Linked DNA regions of Homo sapiens: regions 2, 3 and 4 are each linked to region 1. Evidence: fine-mapped expression QTL. A gene starts in region 1. Each other region holds a variant in brackets. All regions are shown on one strand. Distances are between the middles of the regions. Region 1 holds the start of FXYD5 (FXYD domain containing ion transport regulator 5). Region 2 has its middle 29 kb from the start of FXYD5. Region 3 has its middle 21 kb from the start of FXYD5. Region 4 has its middle 25 kb from the start of FXYD5.

Region 1 (2,685 bases):
CCCTGGCCAGACTCACTGGAAGCAGCCACCCGGGTCTGAGGTGTCCAAAGAGGGTGTAACGTCGCCCCGCCATAGGGATCCCCACTTCCTGGTGCCGGCTCAGCGGGAGGGTGACAGGGCAGGACAACGTTCACACGGGCCAACCACCCACCCCGCAGCACACGTGGGGCTGGCCTGGCTGGGGGCTCTGGGGCAGGGTGGAGGCCAGAGATGGGTCTTACCTCTGGTGGGGAGAATCAGGCCAACGATGGTGAGAAGACACAGGCGACCAGAGGGCGACATCTGTGGGACCAGGCGATGCTGGGGTCAGCCATGATGTCAGTGAGACCGACCTCCGGCAGCCCCCGGGGATCCTGCAGCCCTTTCCCTGCCCTGAGCAAAAACCTCTGGCTTCCAAGACCCCCTGCCAGGGGCTGACGGCTGGCCTCAGGGGAAAGGGGAGGGTCTTAGGTGGGGATACCAAACCGTCACCCTGCTTCCTTCCCCTGCAGGTCCCCAAAGAAAACAAGAAGCATGAGATAAATGGGTCTTCCAGCAGCTGCAAGGGCCGGCGGGCACTCCTGAAGCAGAGAAACACCTCCCTGCGCCTTCCGCCAGGCGCTTATCCCTCACTGGGACTGACGCAAGGAGGGGACTGGGGCAGAGGAGTAGATAGGAGGCCTCTTCCCTCCCCCAGGGGCCCAGAGCCCGGGAGTCGGCGAGGAGGGGAAGGAGGAAGAGTGAGTAACGCCTCCCGCGCTCAGAGGAAAAAGTGAGTTGGTGTCAGGGGCCGCCTTGCAGGGATGGCGCGCTGGAGAGACCTAAGAGGCACTGGTCCGAGGGGGGTGGCAGAGAGCTGGGGAGACTGAGGCAGGCGGGCGGGAGCGAGGCAGAGCGGCCCACTGTAGCCCAGGAGAGGAGGCAGAGAGATGTGGGCGTGGATGGGGGGCGGAGAGGAGCGGAAGGGGTCAAACCCCTACCCACCTGAGCCCGGCCCGTGGGCAGAGGGGCAGCGGATGGAGGTGGCGCACGAGAGGGACTTACGTCGGAGCTGGGGGTCCTAAGCCGGCAGCCTCGTGGAGAGAGGGACGCGGCGGTGGCTGCTGCGTCCAGGCGGAGGGTGTGGCCAGGGGAGCGCGAGCGGGCGGGGACCCAGACGGGCTCAGTCATTTCCTCTTGGGTTTCCTGGCTTCAGAGCCCGGGGTGGGAGCAGGAGGGGGAATCGCTGAGGGCGACGGGGGGCAGGGGTGAGGGCATAGTGGTGGGAGAGGGTGGGAACGGGGATGGGGCAGGCAGGTCTAGGGTGAGTGGACGCCTCTGAGAGAGCAGGGGGAGAAACGGGAGGGCTCTATTCTGGGGTCGCTGGAGGAAGGGAAAGGACAAATCCGGAGGTGTTGAGGAAGGAGAAGGGATTGAAGGGGGGCATCTCGGGGCACTGGGGGAGGAGAATGAAGAGGGGGCGACTCCGGGCACGCAGGGGAGAGCTACCCCAGGTTCAGTTCTGCACCCCTACCCACACCGTGCCCCACAGATGAGAACACACAGACAGAACAGAGGAAAAAACCAAATGCACATTTATTAAGCTCAAGACATGGACACTGAGGGGCCAGGGGGACGGATCTTCGGGGATGAGACAAGGAGGTGCAGGGGGGCCATACACGGGGATGCTGGGGGTGCTGGGCCGGGATGGACTCCCGGATCCCAGGAGCTGGAGGCCTGAGGCCCTGGGTCTGGGGTGCAGACGGGCTCTTTGGGGGATCGTCATTGCCAAGGCCTGGAGAGGGACAGCAGGGTGCAGCGGCTCCAGCCTTGGGGTGGGTGGGGCGGCTCATTCCGGGGAGCGCTCCCGGCGCGCGGCTGGGTCCCCACCGCCTCCACCCGGTCCTCAGGCTCCCGCGCTCAGGCAGGGTCGGCAGCGGAGTTTCCTCGGGAAGGTGTTACACGCCGCCGCCACCAGGGGCTGGGGAGAGAGGGGGTGCGTGAGCCACTAGAAAGGTGGAAACTGCCTCCCTCCCCACAGCTCGTTGGCTCTCCATTCCCCGGCACCATGGAAGCCAGACCCCAGGGACTGTCACCCCAGAGCTAACACTGAGGAGCTGTCTTGCCTCCCACACTCTAATGTCTTGTTCCCTTGGGGACACCTCCTGGCTGCTGTCATGGAGAGAAACACCTGCTACGGGGCTGGCGACCCCAGACCCAACCTGGGCTTTTGGGGCTATCCGCCTGCCAGAAAGGGAGTCCCCATCTCCCTTCCCATTTGCAATCTCCTCCTACACCCTCACTCCTTTCCTACACTCCCTGTCCTGAACATTTGGATACAACGGGAAGTCCCCCATTCCCCACCCGCTGCAGACCATCATTCACCTAGGATAGACCAGAAACCTGTGCAAAGTCTTCAGCTGTGCCCCAGGTGACAAGGCCAACCCCCATGCTGCCCCACGCATCCATAAGTGCCTTGTTCATGTTTTAAAACTCATTAAATAAACATGAAACAGGCCAAGCGCTGTGGCTCACGCCTGTAATCCAAGCACTTTGGGAGGCCGAGGATGGCGGATCGTTTGAGGTCAGGAGTTTGAGACCAGCCTGGCCAAAATGGTGAACCACCATCTCTGCTAAAGATATAAAAATTAGCCGGGTGTGGTGGTGTGTGCCTGTAGTCCCAGCTATTTGGGAGGCTGAGGCAGGAGAATCGCTTGAACCCAGGAC
Region 2 (2,685 bases), 29 kb before region 1:
GCATATAAGTACAGATATCTCTTTGACATACTCATTTCCTGTCCTCTGAATATATACCCTAGAGTGTATTGCTGGATCATAGATAGGATAGTTCTATTTTTAGGTGTTTTTAAGGAGCCTCCATACTGTTTTCCAGTATGATTGTACTAATTTACATTTCCACCAACAGTGTATAAGAGTTCCTTTTCCTCTGCATCCTTGCCAGCTTTTGTTATTTTTTCTCTTTGATAACAGCCATTCTAAGTGGAGTGAGATGATATCTTATTGTAGTATCAATTTGCATTTGCCAGATGATTAATGATGTTGAATATTTTTCATATATACTTGTTGGTCATTTGTATGTCTTCTTTTGAGAAATGCCTATTCAGATAATTTGCTGATTTACTACTCCTTGAGGATTTCTTGTAAGGCTACTTTAGTGGTAATAAATTCCCTCAGTTTTTGCTTGTCTGGGAAAGACTTTATGACTCCTTCATTTCTAAAGGATAGATTTGCTGTTACAGTATTCTTGGCTGCCAGGTTTTTTTCTTTCATCACTTAGAATATATCATCCCATTCGCTCCTGTAATATAAGGTTTCTGCTGAGAAGTCTTCTATTAGTCTAATGGGGATTCCCTTATATGTGACTTGATGCTTTTCTCTTGCTGTTTTTCAAATTCCCTCATGGTCTTCAACTTTTGACAGTTTGACCAGAATGTGCTACAGAGAGGACCTTTTTGGGTTGAATCTATTTGGGGACTTTTGAGCATCCTGAATCTGGATGTCCATACCTTTCCCGAGACTTTGGAAGTTCTCAGCTATTACTTTATTACATAGGATTTCTGTGTCTTTTCTCATCTCTTTTCCTTTTGGAAATTGGAATATCTGTTTGCTTAACAATGTCCCATAGGTCTTGTAGGCTTCCTTCATTCTTTTTTATTTTATTTTTTGTCTGATTGAGTTATTTCAAAAGAGACCTGTCTTCAAGTTTAGAAATTCTTTCTTCTGCTTGACCTAGTTTGTTGTTGAAGCTCTCAATTATATTTTAAATTTCATTTATTGGCCGGGATCGGTGGCTCACGCCTGTAATTCTAGCACTTTGGGAGGCTGAGGTGGGCAGATCACCAGGTCAGGAGTTCGAGACCAGCCTGGCCAACATGGCGAAACCCCGTCTCTACTAAAAATACAAAAATTAGCTGGGCATGGTGGCAGGGGCCTGTAATCCCAGCTACTCAGTAGGTTGGGGCAGAAGAATTGCTTGAACCTGGGAGGCAGAGGTTGCAGTGAGCCAAGATCATGCCATTGCACTCCAGCCTGGGTGACAAGAGCAAGACTCTGTTTCAAAAAAAAAAAAAAAAAAATCATTTATTAAGTCTTCAGCTCCAAAATTTATGTGTTTTTTTTTATGATATCCATCTCTTTACTGATTTTTTTTCATTCTGATCATGAACTGTTTTCCTGATTTTTTTGGG[C/G]GGGGGATGTTGTCTCACTCTGTTGCCCAGGCTGGAGTACGGTGGCACGACCTTGGCTCACTGCAACCTCCGCCTCCAGGGTTCAAACGATTCTTCTGCCTCAGCCTCCCAAGTAGCTGGGACTATAGGCATGCACCATCATGCCTGGCTAGTTTTTGTATTTTTAGTAGAGACATGGTTTTGCCATGTTGGCCAGGATGCTCTCAAATTCCTGACTTCAGGTGATCCACCCACCTCGGCCTCCCGAAGTGCTGGGATTACAGGCGTGAGCCACCGCGCCCAGCCCTGTTTTCCTGATTTTGTTGAATTGTCTATTTGTATTCTCTTGTATCCCATCAAATTTCCTTATGATCACTTGAATTCTTTTTTGGGAATTGCACAGATGTTCTTTTCTTTGGGGTCTATTATTGGAGGATTATTGTGTTCCTTTAGAGGTGTCATGTTTTCTTGCTTTTTCATGTTTCTTGTGTTCCTACACATCTGGTATAATAGCTACCTCTTCCAATTTGATGGAGTAACTTTCATAAGTAAAGACTTTTTCCTGTATATGTACCCTATAGTGTCGGTTGTGTAGGATGCTTTGGCTGTGGTTCTAGATAAACACAGTAGTATGATCTCCATGTGATTTCTTTGGCTGTAATTAATGTCAGCAGTGTCTGTGAATACTTCAGTGGCCTAATATTCAGGTGTTTAAGGAGGCAGTGGTGTGGCTTTGCTGGAGGAAGGAGCTGGGTGAACCCTAGGGAAGTGTGCACTGGGCATGGTGGCTCTGCTAGTTGTGAGGCAGCATTGCCATCACTGTTGGGCACCAGGCAGGCAAGTCCTTGGTCCCTGAGGGATTTGCACATTGGTTCCCCATGTTTTGGGGGCTGCCACCCTGCTGTGATAGATTGCCTGTTCCCTGGGGTGTGGGGCACTGTATGAGTTCAAATGCTGGGGTCATAGCTGTACTTCTGGATCTAACTGGTGTTGTGGCATTGCACCCTTTTGTGTAGACATGGTGGAATAACAGAAGGACCCCAGGGATGTGGAGATGCAGGAGCTATTGGCATCCAAGGCAGAATGCCCTCTAGCAGTGGGCTCTGTTCTCAAAATAGCCCTGTGTGGTAGCAGCCTGGGTCTTTGGGAGTGGGGCCTCAGTGTGAGTCCTTTCTCTGGGGCAGTGTAGCCATGTGGATTCTAGGCAGCTCCCTAGACTGGGCTTCAGGCCTGTGAGGACCGTGAGGCCCTCTTA
Region 3 (2,685 bases), 21 kb before region 1:
ATCTCGGCTCACTGCAACCTCCGCCTCTCAGGTTCAAGTGATTCTCCTGCCTCAGCCTCCTGAGTAGCTGGGATTACAGGCATGCACCGCCATGCCTGGCTAATCTTTCTATTTTTAGTAGAGATGGGGTTTTGACATGTTGGCCAGGCTGGTCTCAAACTCCTGACCTCAGGTAATCCGCCTGCCTCGGCCTCCCAAAGTGCTGGGATTACAGGTGTAAGCCACTGCACTTGGCCTAATTTTTGTATTTTTTGTAGAGACAAGGTTTCACCATATTGGCCAGGTTGGTCTCAAACTCCTGAGATCAAGCGATCTGCCTGCCTCGGCCTCCCAAAGTGCTGGGATTACAGGTGTGAGCCACTGCGCCCAGCCCAGGCTTCCCCATCATCTTGGGTCCCATCCTAGCTCCTAGCTGAACCGTGAGGGACATGTAGTGAGAGCGAGAAACAAACCTTTGTTGTAAGCCACGAGATTTTGAGATTATTTGTGACTGTCAATTTTAAGCAAAATTGGTCTGGCTTGGCATAAGGAATTAGAGGTTGACAAGCTCTTTGGAAAGGCTGGTGGAGTGCGCTCTAAGTGAAGACTGCAAATGATTCCACAACATGAGCAGACTGACTTGCCCAAGGAGCTTCTCCCTCCACCCTAATCAGGAGCCCCCATTGTACACGTCAGCTTCAGCATCTGGCTGCTCTGTCTGAGATCCAGGGATCAGAAAATCATCACCACCCAGGACAGAACTGCCTATTTGTTTTCAATGTTCTTGTTTTGTATTGAGTTATAATTTACTGTGTTAGTTCATTTTGCATTGCCATAAAAGAATACTTGAGACAGTAATTTATAAGGAAAAGAGAATTCTTTGGCTCATGGTTCTTCAGGCTGTACAAGCACAGCACCAGCATCTGCTTGGCTTTTGGTGAAGAGACCTCAGGAATCTTTTACTCATAGCAGGAAGTGAAGGGATAGCAGGCGTGTCCCATGGCAAGAGCAGGAGTAAGACAGAGAGAGGGGGAGGTGCCAGGCTCTTTAAGCAACCAGCTGTCACGTGAGCTAAGAGGGCAAGAACTCACGCATGACCATGGGGAGGACACCAAGCCATTCATGAGGGATCAACCCCCATGACCCAATCACCTCCCACCAGGCCCCCCTCCATCATCGGGGATCACATTTCAACATGAGATTTGGAGGGGTCACACATCCAAATATCACTTACACATAGTAAAGTGTACAAATCTTTTTTTTTTTTT[TC/C]CTTTGAGACAGGGTCTTGCTCCATCACCCAGGCTGGAGTCCAGTGGCGCGATCTCGGCTCACTGCAACCTCCGCCTCCCACGTTCAGGCGACTCTCCTGCTTCAGCCTTCTGAGGAGCTGGGATTACAGGCATGCACCACCATGCCTGGCTAATTTTTGTATTTTTAGTAGAGACGGGGTTTCACCATGTTGGCCAGGCTGGTCTCGAACTCCAACCTCAAGTGATCCACCTGCCTTGGCCTCTCAAAGTGTTGTGATTACAGGCATGAGCCACGGCACCGAGCCCTCAAAACTTAAACGTACAATTTGATCATTCTGATCAATATATGGACATGTAATCTGCACCACTGTCATCAGGGCACAGAACATTTCAATCCTTCCAGAAAGTTCTTTCATGCCCCTTTGCAGTCTCTCCCCACCTCCTGCTGACATAGTAGAGGCCACTACTCTTCTGATTTTTATCACTGTTAATCAGTTTTGCATATTTCAGAACTTCATATAAATGGAATTACACAGTCTGTGCTCTTTCGTGTGTGGTTTCTTTCACTCAAGACAATGCTTTTGAGATTCATTCATGTGTTGTGTAGCTCAGTCTTTCTTCCTTCCACAGTTTGTAGTCCACTCACTTGTGCTGATGGACATTGGGGTTGTTTCTAGTCTTTTTACTATTACAGATATTGCTGTAAACATTTGTGTGTGGGTCTTTGTGTGGACATGTGGTTTGACTTCTCTTGGATAAATACTTAAGAGTTGAATAGCTGGGTCATAGGTTAAGTGCACATTTACCTTTTTAAGAAACTGCCAATTTTCTTTTCTTTTCTTTTTTTTTTTTTTGAGACCGAGTCTCGTTCTGTTGCCTAGGCTGGAGTACAGTGGTCTGATCTCGGCTCACTGCAACCTCTGTCTCCTGGGTTCAAGTGATTTTCCTGCCTCAGCCCCCCGGGTAGCTGGGATTACAAGCACCCACCACCACATCCAGCTAATTTTTGTATTTTTAGTAGAGACGGGGCTTCACCATGTTGGCCAGGCTGGTCTCGAACTCCTGACCTCAGATGGTCTTCAGCCTCCCAAAGTGCTGGGATTACAGGTGTGAGCCACCGTGGCCAGCCTAGAAACTGCCAGTTTTCTAAAGTGATTGTATCCCTTTCTGGTCCAGCTACGAATGGAAATTCCACTTGTTCCACATCCTCTTCCCACTTGGAAGTGTCTGTCTTTTTAATTTTAGCCATCCTAGTGGGTGTGTGGTGGTATCTCATTGTGATTTTCATTTATTTTTACTGATGACTGTTGATATTGAACATCTTTTCATGTGCTTATTGGCCATTTAGATTTCCCTTTCCCTTCCTTCCTTCCTTCGTTCCTTCCTTCGTTCCTTCCTTCCTTCCTTCCTTTCTTCTTTCTCTCTTTCTCTCTCTCTCTTTCTTTCTTTCAAAATG
Region 4 (2,685 bases), 25 kb before region 1:
CTCCAAGTTTTCCAGCACAGTCAGCAGCAATGAGCCAACCCCATTACACTTCTTATTTTCACTAAACTGTTCTGTGGAAGCAAATACTCAGTCACCCAGAGCCTTTCCTTCTATAGAAACCTAATATAGGAAGCTACTGGTGATGGTCTGAGTGACTGCCTTGCCACTCCATGCTATGACCTATCAGTGTACCCTTCATTACTGAAAACAAGGTCATTAATGGCTTTCAATTTAATTAGAGAACCAATTCTAGAAAAACCAGATCTCGGCCGGGCGCGGTGGCTCACGCCTGTAATCCCAGCACTTTGGAAGGCCGAGGCAGGTGGATCACAAGGTCAAGAGATTGAGACCATCTTGGCTAATACGGTGAAACCCCGTCTCTACTAAAAGTACAATAAAATTAGCTGGGCGTTGTGGCAGGCGCCTGTAGTCCCAGCTGCTGGGGAGGCTGAGGCAGGAGAATGGCGTGAACCCGGGAGGCGGAACTTGCAGTAAACCAAGATCACGCCACCACACTCCAGCCTGGGTGACAGAGTGAGACTCCATCTCAAAAAAAAAAAAAAAAGAGAAAGAAAAACCAGATCTCATTGTTAAGATTCTGGCCTTCTGGAACCACTCTTAGTACCAAATTCTGTATCAGCAAAGCTGAACCTTTAATACATATGTGGGCGTACACACACACAGTTTGCTACACGAATTTGACCTTCAACAATTGTAGTTGCTAGTGAAGCTCTCTTTGTAGGGCTGTTGTCTTGATGCTGGAACTTGAAACCCACAGGTGCAGGAAGTCAGGAAGGGAAGATTGAGGTAAGATTGGGGAGAGCACGGAACAAGTTAGAACCCACAAGCACAAGCTGGAGTCCACAAGGATGGACTGAATCCTATGTTAATTCTTTTTCTTTTTCTTTTCTCTTCTTTTTTTTCTTTCTTTCTTTCTTTTTGTTTTTCTTTTTGAGACAGAGTTTCACTCGGTCGACCAGGCTGGAGTGCAGTGGTGTGATCTCTGCTCACTGCAACCTCTGCTTCCCAGGTTGAAGAGATTCTCTTGCCTCAGCCTCCCGAGTAGCTGGGATTGCAGGCATGCAACATCACGCCTGGGTAATTTTTGTATTTTTAGTAAAGATGGAGTTTCACCATGTTGACCAGGCTGGTCTCGAACTCCTGACCTCAAGTGATCCACCCGCCTCGGCCTCCCAGAGTGCTGGAATTACAGGCATGAGCCACTGCACCCAGCCCCATGCTAATTCTTGTTGTCTATGACCTTGGTGCTGTGGGTGTCTTGCTAGAGTCATGGTCCTTCATCACGGGGCTGAGCACACATGTCTGGCCCAACAACTGGGGAAGCTGAAGGAGGATCCAGCGGAAGGTGAAACAGTTGCAGCCCTGGTTGCTGCCTTATGCCAATGAGATGAGCTGTCTGATAAGTGACAACTGGTATAAGCTGCGAAATGTCCGTGGCTTCACCTCTACCCAGCAGATCCCTGACAAGAATGTCTCTTGTGGTTCACCCTAACCAGAAAACACAGGCATCTAGGGAAAAAGATTCTGGGAAGTGTAGTTTAACCTGGCCAAGGTGATACATTACAAAGCCACCTCAGGCGAT[G/A]TTTCAAACCCTGTTTAACCTCCCACCATCAGCAGCTGGAGTCCTTGACTCAATAACTTCTTGAGAAGCCAACAGACTTTACCGAAGCAATCATTGGAGGTCATCCTCAACACCTCCAAGAAAAGCACAATCTAGTGTCAGATGAGAAAAGGCAGATTCCTTCCAGTTAATGTGATCTGGCCTCAATTTCAAAACAAGAACCTTGACAGAATTGTACTCAGGAGGCTAGCTGAATTACAACATCCACTCCATTAGCTCCTGGCAAGATATCTCCCCTGATGTAAGGGTGGAGGAGGAGGAGGCTTCACTTCAGACCATGATGCCACAGAAAAAGATGTCTTTTGCCAGAAAGGGATTGGGTAGCATTGGAGAGCATTGGAGGCGCTGTTGAAGTGATGTCTGGAAGTCTCTATCAAGTCTGAGAATCAGTGCTGCTGTCCTCTGGAAGTTTCAAAAACGACCAGTTTTTTTTTTTTTTTTGAGATGACGTCTCACTCTTGTCACCCAGGCTGGAGTGCAATGGTGCAATCTTGGCTCACTGCAACCTCCGCCTCCTAGGTTCAAGTGATTCTCTTGCCTCAGCCTCCCGAGTAGCTGGGATTACAGGCATGTGTCACATGCCTGGCTAATTTTTGTATTTTTAGTAGAGATGGGATTTCACCCTGTTGGCCAGGCTGGTTTCGAACTCCTGACCTCAGGTGATCCACCTGCCTTGGCCTCCCAAAGTGTTGAGATTACAGGTGTGAGCCACTGTGCCTGGCCAACCCCCAGTCTTAACAGTTATCTTTTCCTTTTACATTGGAGTAAAAATGACTTGAGGCTCCATCTCCTGACTTGGTGGCAGCTCCCCATCCTTCTCAGCATCCTAATCAACAAATTCCTGAGGGCAATTATTTTCCTTGATGGTATTTGGGGTGTCACGGACTCAGCTAAAAGACCACATTTCTGTGTCCTTTGCAATTAGAGGTAGCAATCCGAAGGAAGTAGAAATCTTTGGGAGGGAGTCTTGGGAAGTCCCTTTAAAAGGAGCTGAATCACCTAGTGGTGCCTTTCCTTTCTCACTTTTTTTTCCCCTTCTTGAT

Evidence for each region.
Region 2: its variant is fine-mapped to the expression of FXYD5 in monocytes (Fairfax 2014, PIP 0.95).
Region 3: its variant is fine-mapped to the expression of FXYD5 in monocytes (Quach 2016, PIP 0.92).
Region 4: its variant is fine-mapped to the expression of FXYD5 in whole blood (TOPMed, PIP 0.94).

The regions. Positions count from the first base shown.
Region 1 is chr19:35,153,148-35,155,832 of GRCh38, reverse strand. It overlaps FXYD5 (FXYD domain containing ion transport regulator 5), which reads right to left and starts at 1,098. Exons shown (of 9, transcript NM_014164.6): 1 at 1,024-1,098; 2 at 222-282. The coding sequence starts at 282. It overlaps FXYD7 (FXYD domain containing ion transport regulator 7), which reads right to left. Exons shown (of 6, transcript NM_022006.2): 6 at 1,531-1,939. The coding sequence ends at 1,917. RefSeq lists enhancers at 158-327, 1,266-2,130.
Region 2 is chr19:35,182,354-35,185,038 of GRCh38, reverse strand. No RefSeq gene overlaps it. Among named protein-coding and RNA genes, the nearest start is that of FXYD5, 29 kb to the right of the region's middle. The variant C/G (reference allele first, on the strand shown) is at 1,452.
Region 3 is chr19:35,174,340-35,177,024 of GRCh38, reverse strand. No RefSeq gene overlaps it. Among named protein-coding and RNA genes, the nearest start is that of FXYD5, 21 kb to the right of the region's middle. RefSeq lists a silencer at 1,018-1,174. The variant TC/C (reference allele first, on the strand shown) is at 1,248.
Region 4 is chr19:35,178,103-35,180,787 of GRCh38, reverse strand. No RefSeq gene overlaps it. Among named protein-coding and RNA genes, the nearest start is that of FXYD5, 25 kb to the right of the region's middle. The variant G/A (reference allele first, on the strand shown) is at 1,604.